3 separate regions of the Homo sapiens genome follow, and regions 2 and 3 are each linked to region 1. Evidence: fine-mapped expression QTL. A gene starts in region 1. Each other region holds a variant in brackets. All regions are shown on one strand. Distances are between the middles of the regions. Region 1 holds the start of MPDZ (multiple PDZ domain crumbs cell polarity complex component). Region 2 overlaps MPDZ (multiple PDZ domain crumbs cell polarity complex component). Region 3 overlaps MPDZ (multiple PDZ domain crumbs cell polarity complex component).

The links. PIP is the estimated chance that this variant, and not a neighbour inherited with it, causes the effect. A credible set is the group of variants that fine-mapping cannot tell apart.
Region 2: its variant is the best candidate, but not a certain one, in a credible set for the expression of MPDZ in fibroblasts (GTEx, PIP 0.88).
Region 3: its variant is the best candidate, but not a certain one, in a credible set for the expression of MPDZ in tibial nerve (GTEx, PIP 0.64).

The regions. Positions count from the first base shown.
Region 1 is chr9:13,278,131-13,280,896 of GRCh38, reverse strand. It overlaps MPDZ (multiple PDZ domain crumbs cell polarity complex component), which reads left to right and starts at 1,205. Exons shown (of 47, transcript NM_001378778.1): 1 at 1,205-1,497. RefSeq lists enhancers at 1,582-2,297, 2,298-2,766.
Region 2 is chr9:13,105,519-13,108,284 of GRCh38, reverse strand. It overlaps MPDZ (multiple PDZ domain crumbs cell polarity complex component), which reads left to right. Exons shown (of 47, transcript NM_001378778.1): 47 at 1,174-2,578. The coding sequence ends at 1,320. Among named protein-coding and RNA genes, the nearest start is that of SNORD137, 130 kb to the right of the region's middle. The variant A/G (reference allele first, on the strand shown) is at 1,686.
Region 3 is chr9:13,124,859-13,127,624 of GRCh38, reverse strand. MPDZ (multiple PDZ domain crumbs cell polarity complex component) reads left to right here. Exons shown (of 47, transcript NM_001378778.1): 33 at 853-945; 34 at 1,035-1,109; 35 at 2,235-2,409. Among named protein-coding and RNA genes, the nearest start is that of MPDZ, 150 kb to the left of the region's middle. The variant A/G (reference allele first, on the strand shown) is at 1,568.

The DNA.
Region 1 (2,766 bases):
GAAAAGAGGGCCCGTAACTGATTTTTAAGGAATTCCAGCATCTAAAGATTGGGGGAGAGGAGGCAAAGAAGACTGAAGAGTGGCCTGGGGACAGGGGCAGATCTACCTGGAAATTGATGTAGCTTAACGTTCCGGGTCCTTCTCTTGCCTGGGAGCAACCCTAGCAATGTGTTTACATGGGCATTTATTTTTTGAATTTTTCTAAAGAAAGATTTTTTTTTTTTTTTTGGTTAAAGCAGAGCTCCCAATTGTACAAGCTTCAGAGCCCATACATCCGCCCTTGACTAAGCGGAAGAAGCAAAACCAAGAGTGTGATTGCATGGAATTACAAGAGGGGTGGGGTGGGGAGGACTCTAGGAAGAGAGAGGTCAACAGCTGTGAATGTGTTTGAAAGTCCAAGGAATATGAGAAAAAAGTATTTTTATTCAGAATATTAAAAGAAATTCTTTTAAATGTTCTAAATTGGACTTCTGAGTATCCTTTGGTCCTATAATCTAATATCAGAGGGATATTTTGAAAAAGAGTTTCTTATGCAGAAAAAAATTCGTGGGACTTCCAAATTGAGGATAACAGAAAGAAAATCTTAAGTGGCACAAAATAGAAATGAATATCTGTTCTTCCTGGGGCCATGCAACTCTAATAACTTTTCCATGTTTACTGTTTTTGCTTTTTAATTGGATCATCAGACTAAGAATGCACCCTGATGTGCGAAAAGTTACTTAGAAAGTGAGAGGACTGCCCCCACCCTTCTGATTAAAGCGCTTCTCATAAGCATCCTATGCCATTCAGTAAGCTACCCATGCAGAAAGCATCCACAGGGCAGTGCACATAAGGAAAATCTGAGGAGCTAGAAACAGGCTATCAGTTTCCGCAGGTTGACAAAATCGGCAGATAAAAATACAAGACTGCCATTAAATTTGAATTTCCGATAAACAACGAAGAACTTTTTAGCATAAGTACGTCCCAAATATTGCATGGGATATACTTGTACTAAAATTATTCCTTTTTTTTTTTATTTGAAATTCCCATTTAACAGAGCAGCCTATATTTTATCTGACCACCTCACAAGTCCACTACCCACACCCCAGGTCGAGCGGCCCAGGAGCGAGTTTAAAACCCCGCACAGGCCTGCTCGGCCGCGTCCCCTGATTGGCCAAGGCGCGCCCGCCGCCCCGCCGGTCGCAGGCGTCACGGCAGCCCCAGCAGCCTGGGCCCCGCCACCGCCTCCGCGGCAGCCCCGGTCGGCGCAAGTGCGGCGCGCGCTGGGGGAGGGGGCGCGGCGGAGCGCTAGGCTGGCGTCGGGCCACCGCGGGATTAAGTTTCTCAGTCACGCGTGAGTGTCTGTGCGTTTTGATCCGAAGCTCCTCGCCGGGTCGTTACTTCAGAAGAGAAGACAGTGAGCGTGGGCGAGGCGAGGCATCCAGAGGCCCCGGCGACCCCTGCTCCCCAGTCCTCCGCCCCCTCGCGTCGCGGCCCTGGGCGGGCGCCGCGAGCCGGGTAAGCGGCGCTTGAGCCCCGGCCCAGAGGCCGAGGCGCGCCCCCGCGCCCTGCGCGCGCGCCGGCGGGGAAGGTGCGCGGGCGCCCTGGGCTCGGCGCTTGGGGGTGGGGGTGGGGGCGGGGATGGGGGTGGGGGTGGGGGTGGGGGTAGGGGTGGCGGCGGGCCGTGGGGCGGTGGGGCGGTGCGCTTGCCCCACCCCGCGCGGCCCGGCGCTTCGCGGAAGCCGCTGCTGTGGCTTTTTTAAAAGGATGGGGTCTAGAAGTTTCCTTTGCTACTCGCAAGTCTCCACTCCCCCCAGCCCCGCGGTGGATAATCCTAGACCTTTCAGCACCCCCGCCACCCCTTTCTTTTGCTCTCGCTGACTAAGAGGTTTAAAAGTTTTTCCTTTTCCTTGACCCAGAGGGGCACAGTCTTGGTGTCGGGGGGCTGGGGGTGGGGTGTTAGCCTGGGGGCCCGGAGCGCAGACCAGGCCTCCAGGGCGCGGGAGCCTGTTGCTCTCCCCTGCAGGGGCCGCTCCCGGACGCCCCATCCGCCGTTACGTGGTCCCGGGATGTGCGGGTTGCGGTAGAGAGTGGGCAGCAATGCTCCTGGTCCTGCGTTCTCGCCTTAGCCGCGGGGACCCCGAGGCGAGCCGCTAATTGGTACCGGTGCCCCGTCCCTCACCCCTGGCACCGGCGCCCTTTTAACCGCCGCTCCCGTTGGTGGGAGCACGTTGGTCTTGTCTCTCCCTTAGTCTCCTCACCCCCCGCGCTGATGGGCGTCTTTGTCTGCGATTTGGCAGCCCCAGGATGCCGGATGTTACCAGGGAAGCGATGTTTGGGAGACGCTTTGTGTCTTGCGGAGTTGCGCGTTTGTTGGGTGGTGATGGTGTACATTTTTGTTTGCGTTCTTTGCAGAGGCACAAAGGCTGGGCTATTCTTGCCTGCAGTCACATGGAAATCAAGCGGAGACTGCGGGGGAGGAGAAGTGGCCAGGCGCCGGCGGGAGGTAGAGGCCGCTCCGTAGTCACTGGGGGCGAGTGGGGGCCCCTGGAGACCTCTACTGCGCGGTGCGGCTTTTGAGGTGCTCCGCTTGGGAAGACCCCGGCAATGGGCACTGACTGCCTTTTTGCAGTAGGGGCTGCGGTTGGAGGCTAGTGTTTCCTAGGTATCATCAGATAGATAAGAGGACCATGACTTCACCAGCGTAGAAGGAAAACTTCTCCATGTTCCTTGATGTCATAGAGAAGGAATCTGATAAGTGATCAGACTGCCTCGTCCTGCCTTGTA
Region 2 (2,766 bases), 170 kb after region 1:
AAATAATTTAAACCCATGTAATTATTGTTAATATGTTAAGTCGTTTTTCAGGGGCTACAAAATTCGACAAGATTTTCTGCAGGGAAAAATTTAGAATCTCAAAATTTTACAGTGTCAAAAGAAACAAAACTTAGTCAAACGTGTTTAAAAATTTGATACAGGGCCTTTGGATTAGTGGTATAGTTCTTTATGGATATTTTATTTTATTATTTTGGAAAAGATCTTTTTTTTAGCCAATTTAAAGTGTTGTACCTACAACAAGCTAGCTATAGGCTTAATTTATAAGATTTTTAAAAAAGCTATCGGTATGTCCAAAAATACAAACAGCATTTGCTAGTGAATAGAAGAGTCATACAGTCCTTTTCCTCAGCCTAGGAACAATTTATTTAAGGCATGCTAGTTAGAACATATTTTAAGAATTTCATCATTATGGATTCCTCATTAACTTTTCCATATTTTTAATTTTATATTTAATTGCATAATTGTCTTCTATAAGCGTGCTTTAAGATGGGGTTCTTTTTCTAACACCAATGTCTGTATTTAATCTTAATCATTTAGGGTCCATAAGGAATATGAAGAATCTCTCTACCCTTGGGAAGTAAGAACTAAGACAGCTTGAATAGCTTTTTCAAAACCACAAAAAGAAATAGCAGTGGGTTTTAAATTTAGAACTTATGCCTTATCCTGCCATAGGGAATGTTCAGGTGGCTTTGTGCTTTTGCAGACCTTTGGATTTTGTCATCCCCCAAGCCCTTGTCCTGTAAAACTGTTTTTGTTCCTACCTAATCCTTTACCTTCTTTCTGTAGGTCTTATTTACAGGATAGAAAATCCTGGATTCTATTGAATCATTCCTACTAGGCAAATTCCCAAATATTCTTTATTAATTTGTGTTCCCACCAACTGCTGTGCTGAACAGCCAAAAACCCATCCAACTGATCTATCGACTGCTAAATTCTCTCTCAAATTGGTATCTCAATGCTAAAACCATTTAGGAGAAAGACCTTCTTTGTCTATGTTCATCATTGCTTAATGGCTTAGAGCACCCATGGAGCACTGGGAGCAGTGTGTGTGTACAAGCAGAGCAATTTACATTCCTGTTGAGATCTTTTTCTGTTGTGAGTTGCAAGGCAGCATTTTTTGAGAAATAAACAAGTCTACTTTATAATTTGCAGGGAGCAGCCTCTGAAGACGGACGTCTGAAAAGGGGCGATCAGATCATTGCTGTCAATGGGCAGAGTCTAGAAGGAGTCACCCATGAAGAAGCTGTTGCCATCCTTAAACGGACAAAAGGCACTGTCACTTTGATGGTTCTCTCTTGAATTGGCTGCCAGAATTGAACCAACCCAACCCCTAGCTCACCTCCTACTGTAAAGAGAATGCACTGGTCCTGACAATTTTTATGCTGTGTTCAGCCGGGTCTTCAAAACTGTAGGGGGGAAATAACACTTAAGTTTCTTTTTCTCATCTAGAAATGCTTTCCTTACTGACAACCTAACATCATTTTTCTTTTCTTCTTGCATTTTGTGAACTTAAAGAGAAGGAATATTTGTGTAGGTGAATCTCGTTTTTATTTGTGGAGATATCTAATGTTTTGTAGTCACATGGGCAAGAATTATTACATGCTAAGCTGGTTAGTATAAAGAAAGATAATTCTAAAGCTAACCAAAGAAAATGGCTTCAGTAA[A/G]TTAGGATGAAAAATGAAAATATAAAATAAAGAAGAAAATCTCGGGGAGTTTAAAAAAAATGCCTCAATTTGGCAATCTACCTCCTCTCCCCACCCCAAACTAAAAAAAGAAAAAAAGGTTTTCTAATGAAAATCTTTAAAAATACTGTCAGTATTTTAAAATTTTCAACAGTATTATAAAAACATTGCATCTCCCCACCTCTAATATGCATATATATTTTTCCTGCTAAAATTGGTTTCTACAATTGAGTAAATGGCAAATACATGAAGCAATGTCCCTAAATTTTATAAAGAAATTATATTTAATGCACATTTCAATTTTCATTCTTATTTTTGACCTTTTGTAAAATATTTTCATGTTGCTATAAGTAAATGATGATGCCACCCCATGTTGACTATGGTTTTTCTAGAAAGCAACTATGCTGCTAACCATAGAGGAACATAGAAGGGTTCCAGAATCTTTAGTGCTGGTTTTAACAACCGATGCAACATTAAAAATGTGTTAGTGTGCTGTGCAATTGGTTTTCAATTCATATTAATCTTAATGACAGAGAACAATGTGTTACTAATTATTTTGGTTGTATGCCATTAGTAAATTGATAGAAAAATTAAGGGGATTAACATAACTTCATTTCATTGACTTATATTAACATCTTATAATACAATAGTTTAAGACTAAGGGAAACAGATGGAGCTGTTTATTGAGACAACTGGTGAGGAATTATCATGTGTTCATTCCCATTTTAGAGCGTGAAACTCCTACATTAGAATATATAAAGTCACTTTAAATATCTATATTTGTAACAGAAGTAGTGTACAGATATTTTATTACAGCATTTTTGTGTAAATGCAGAATTAAAGTGAATAAATAAGAATTTTCAGTGGTGCACAAATAAGCAGCAAGCATTTTTTTTGTTCTTTTTACTGTGGAAAAGCTTTGTTATATACTGTTCAAGATTTACAACTTAAAATTGGTTTTTATCATGTCTAACTGCACATATGGTGTCCATAGTTACAGCTAAAGGAACTTTGGACAACATCATTATGGAAAGCTTAATATTTTTTACCTCCACAATTTTTT
Region 3 (2,766 bases), 150 kb after region 1:
TCTCTGATGGCACATTTAACTTGTGTGTATATTTCAGAGAAACCATGTCAAGATTCTCTTTTCTTTTCTTTGCTTTTTGTAACTTTTCTCTGGAGAAAAAATTAGAAGGTGGCTAGCTCTGGCAATGAAAATGTTAAAAACTCTGTTTTAATTTTATTAAAGTAAACATTAAAGAAAGCTAAAAGCCAATATTTCTGAACATTTGGTTTTGATAAAGGGAAATGTGGAAAATGTAGCGAAGTAGGTGTAGCTCCCCAGCCTTGGCAGGTTCTCAGAGCTTGTCTTGGGACTGAGAGGCATTTTCAGTCTGCAGCAGATTGAAATGCTGTTGTCTGGAGAAACAAGTCTGAGTGTTCACCCCCCAAAAGGACAGAGTCTGCATCAGTAATGGCAGACTGCCTGCTAAAGGAAGAAGAGGGGCAGAAAAGAATGAAGGGGCTAGACCCTGTTGTTATTTCCAAGCGACAGGCCAGAGAAGAAGCGGGATTCTTTGGTTGGTTTTGAATGACTTATTCAGTCATTAGACAAAATTTGTAAATGCTGAATGTTTTGGTTGAATTATTGAATGTATTTTTGCTGTCTAGATATTTTGCTAAAGTTACTAAAGATGTCAGACATATGGGAAGAGTGAAAACACTTGAATGTTTGATGGAGGAAAATTTATTCCCATTAGGAAAATTTGAAAGTTTGTTTAAGAAAAGACAAGATTTCTAAGATCTTAGATTTAAAGTCTAAGGTCTTAGATTTCTGGACTTCAGAAGAGTTTTAGTTGTTTTTCTTACCCTTGGTATCCATTTGGATAAAATTAATCTGTTTCAAGTCTTCTGAGCATTTTTGTTTTTACTTTTCTAGGATCAGGGGGGTTTGGGTATTGCTATCAGCGAAGAAGATACACTCAGTGGAGTCATCATAAAGAGCTTAACAGAGCATGGGGTAGCAGCCACGGTGAGGTTTACCTTTCTTGCTGTCATTAAGTAGTTGGGGAGGGAATTACTTTTGGAATATCACTCAAATTCTTCTACGTTTCCATTTAGGATGGACGACTCAAAGTCGGAGATCAGATACTGGCTGTAGATGATGAAATTGTTGTTGGTTACCCTATTGAAAAGGTAATTTTCCAAAATAAAGTAAATGGTAATGTAGGCCCATCCTTGGGCATGATTAAAGTGTTTGTGTCTGCGATCATAGAGAATTAGGGTTATGTAGCTGTATTAGACATGTTCTTAAGGAAAAGAAGAGATTGTTCAGAAGTTCTTCAATTTCTATTTCTTATTTTCCAGTTGGTGTTAAGGTATTTTTCGTTGCCACACAAATTATTCAATATTCACTGGGCAGTTTTGATAAATATTTCCATTTTTTCCTTAGGAAAACTTTAAACTCCTTAACAGTGACTGTTAGTGCCAAAATATTTTTTAATGAATGTTTGCTGTTATAAATATCCATTGTGTATACTACTTTATAAACAGATTGTAAGACTCAACCATTAAATACGTAATTTTTATTAGGGTTAAACATATCTTGTACTTGAGTTCCCTCTCCTCAAAAGAGATCTTAATACTTATTTGGT[A/G]TCTCATTTGAGGCCTTTTATTTATTAGTGCCAGAAAAAAGCTTTGTTTCCTTGAAATATGGTATGCTTTTTCTTTCTTATAGTGAGAGAGAACCATATAACTTATCATTTCTTCATTGTACAGTAAGAAGCTTAAAGTTACTTTTTAAAAATTCAGTTTTTAGTAAGTATTTAGGCCAGATCCTTTAACCCATAAATCTGTGTTTTAACTTTTCGTTTACCTTGACTTTTTTGTTGTATACTTTTCTTATTCTGCTTCTAACATATGTGTTTCTATTTTATTAAAACTGTTTGTGTAAGTTGCTTCTATAGAATCAGGAAGTAGGTAAAATAACCCATATATCTTCTAAGGTTGTAGGCATTCAGAAAAACGGATGAGATTAGAGATGTAAAAAGTTGAAAGTCTTATATAAGAAAAAAATGTGGTCAGAGCTAGACTTAGAGTAGAAATTAACCATGGCCCTAATCTACATCAAGCATTTGGAAAAGCTAGAGAGAAACTAGAGCCATTTCTTTCTTTACCCAAGTCCTGACAAAGAAATAATTTGCATCTGTCCCTCCCCTTAACCATAGAGAGAATTAGATTCCATTGATAATGGTGACTCATTGGTATGTCTACTAATTCAGCTTTGAATTTTGTTTCTCTTCCACACATACACCCTGCCAGTTTATTAGCCTTCTGAAGACAGCAAAGATGACAGTAAAACTTACCATCCATGCTGAGAATCCAGATTCCCAGGCTGTTCCTTCAGCAGCTGGTGCAGCCAGTGGAGAAAAAAAGAACAGCTCCCAGTCTCTGATGGTCCCACAGTCTGGCTCCCCAGAACCGGAGTCCATCCGAAGTAAGGCCTCTGGACTCATGAGAGTCCTGCACATATGGAACACCTGAACTCAGCAGAGGGTTTCTGCTTGGGAGCCAGCTGCCTACCTGTGGCTCACTGTTTGGAAGGTTGTAGTCAGGGAGCCCTATGGTGAGGGCAGGATATAAAGAGAGGACTTCTGGAAAAAGAGTACTGGACTGTTAGGCAGGCAATCTATGTGCTGTACATTAAGCAGCTGTGGCATCTTAGGAAACCTACCCACTCAAAGCCTCAGCTTCTTCATCTCTAAAACAAGGGAATAGTATTCTTTGCTCTCCAAAAATATATTGCTAAGGGCACCTTGATTCCAGGCCTCTAACTAATGAATTAGAAATATCA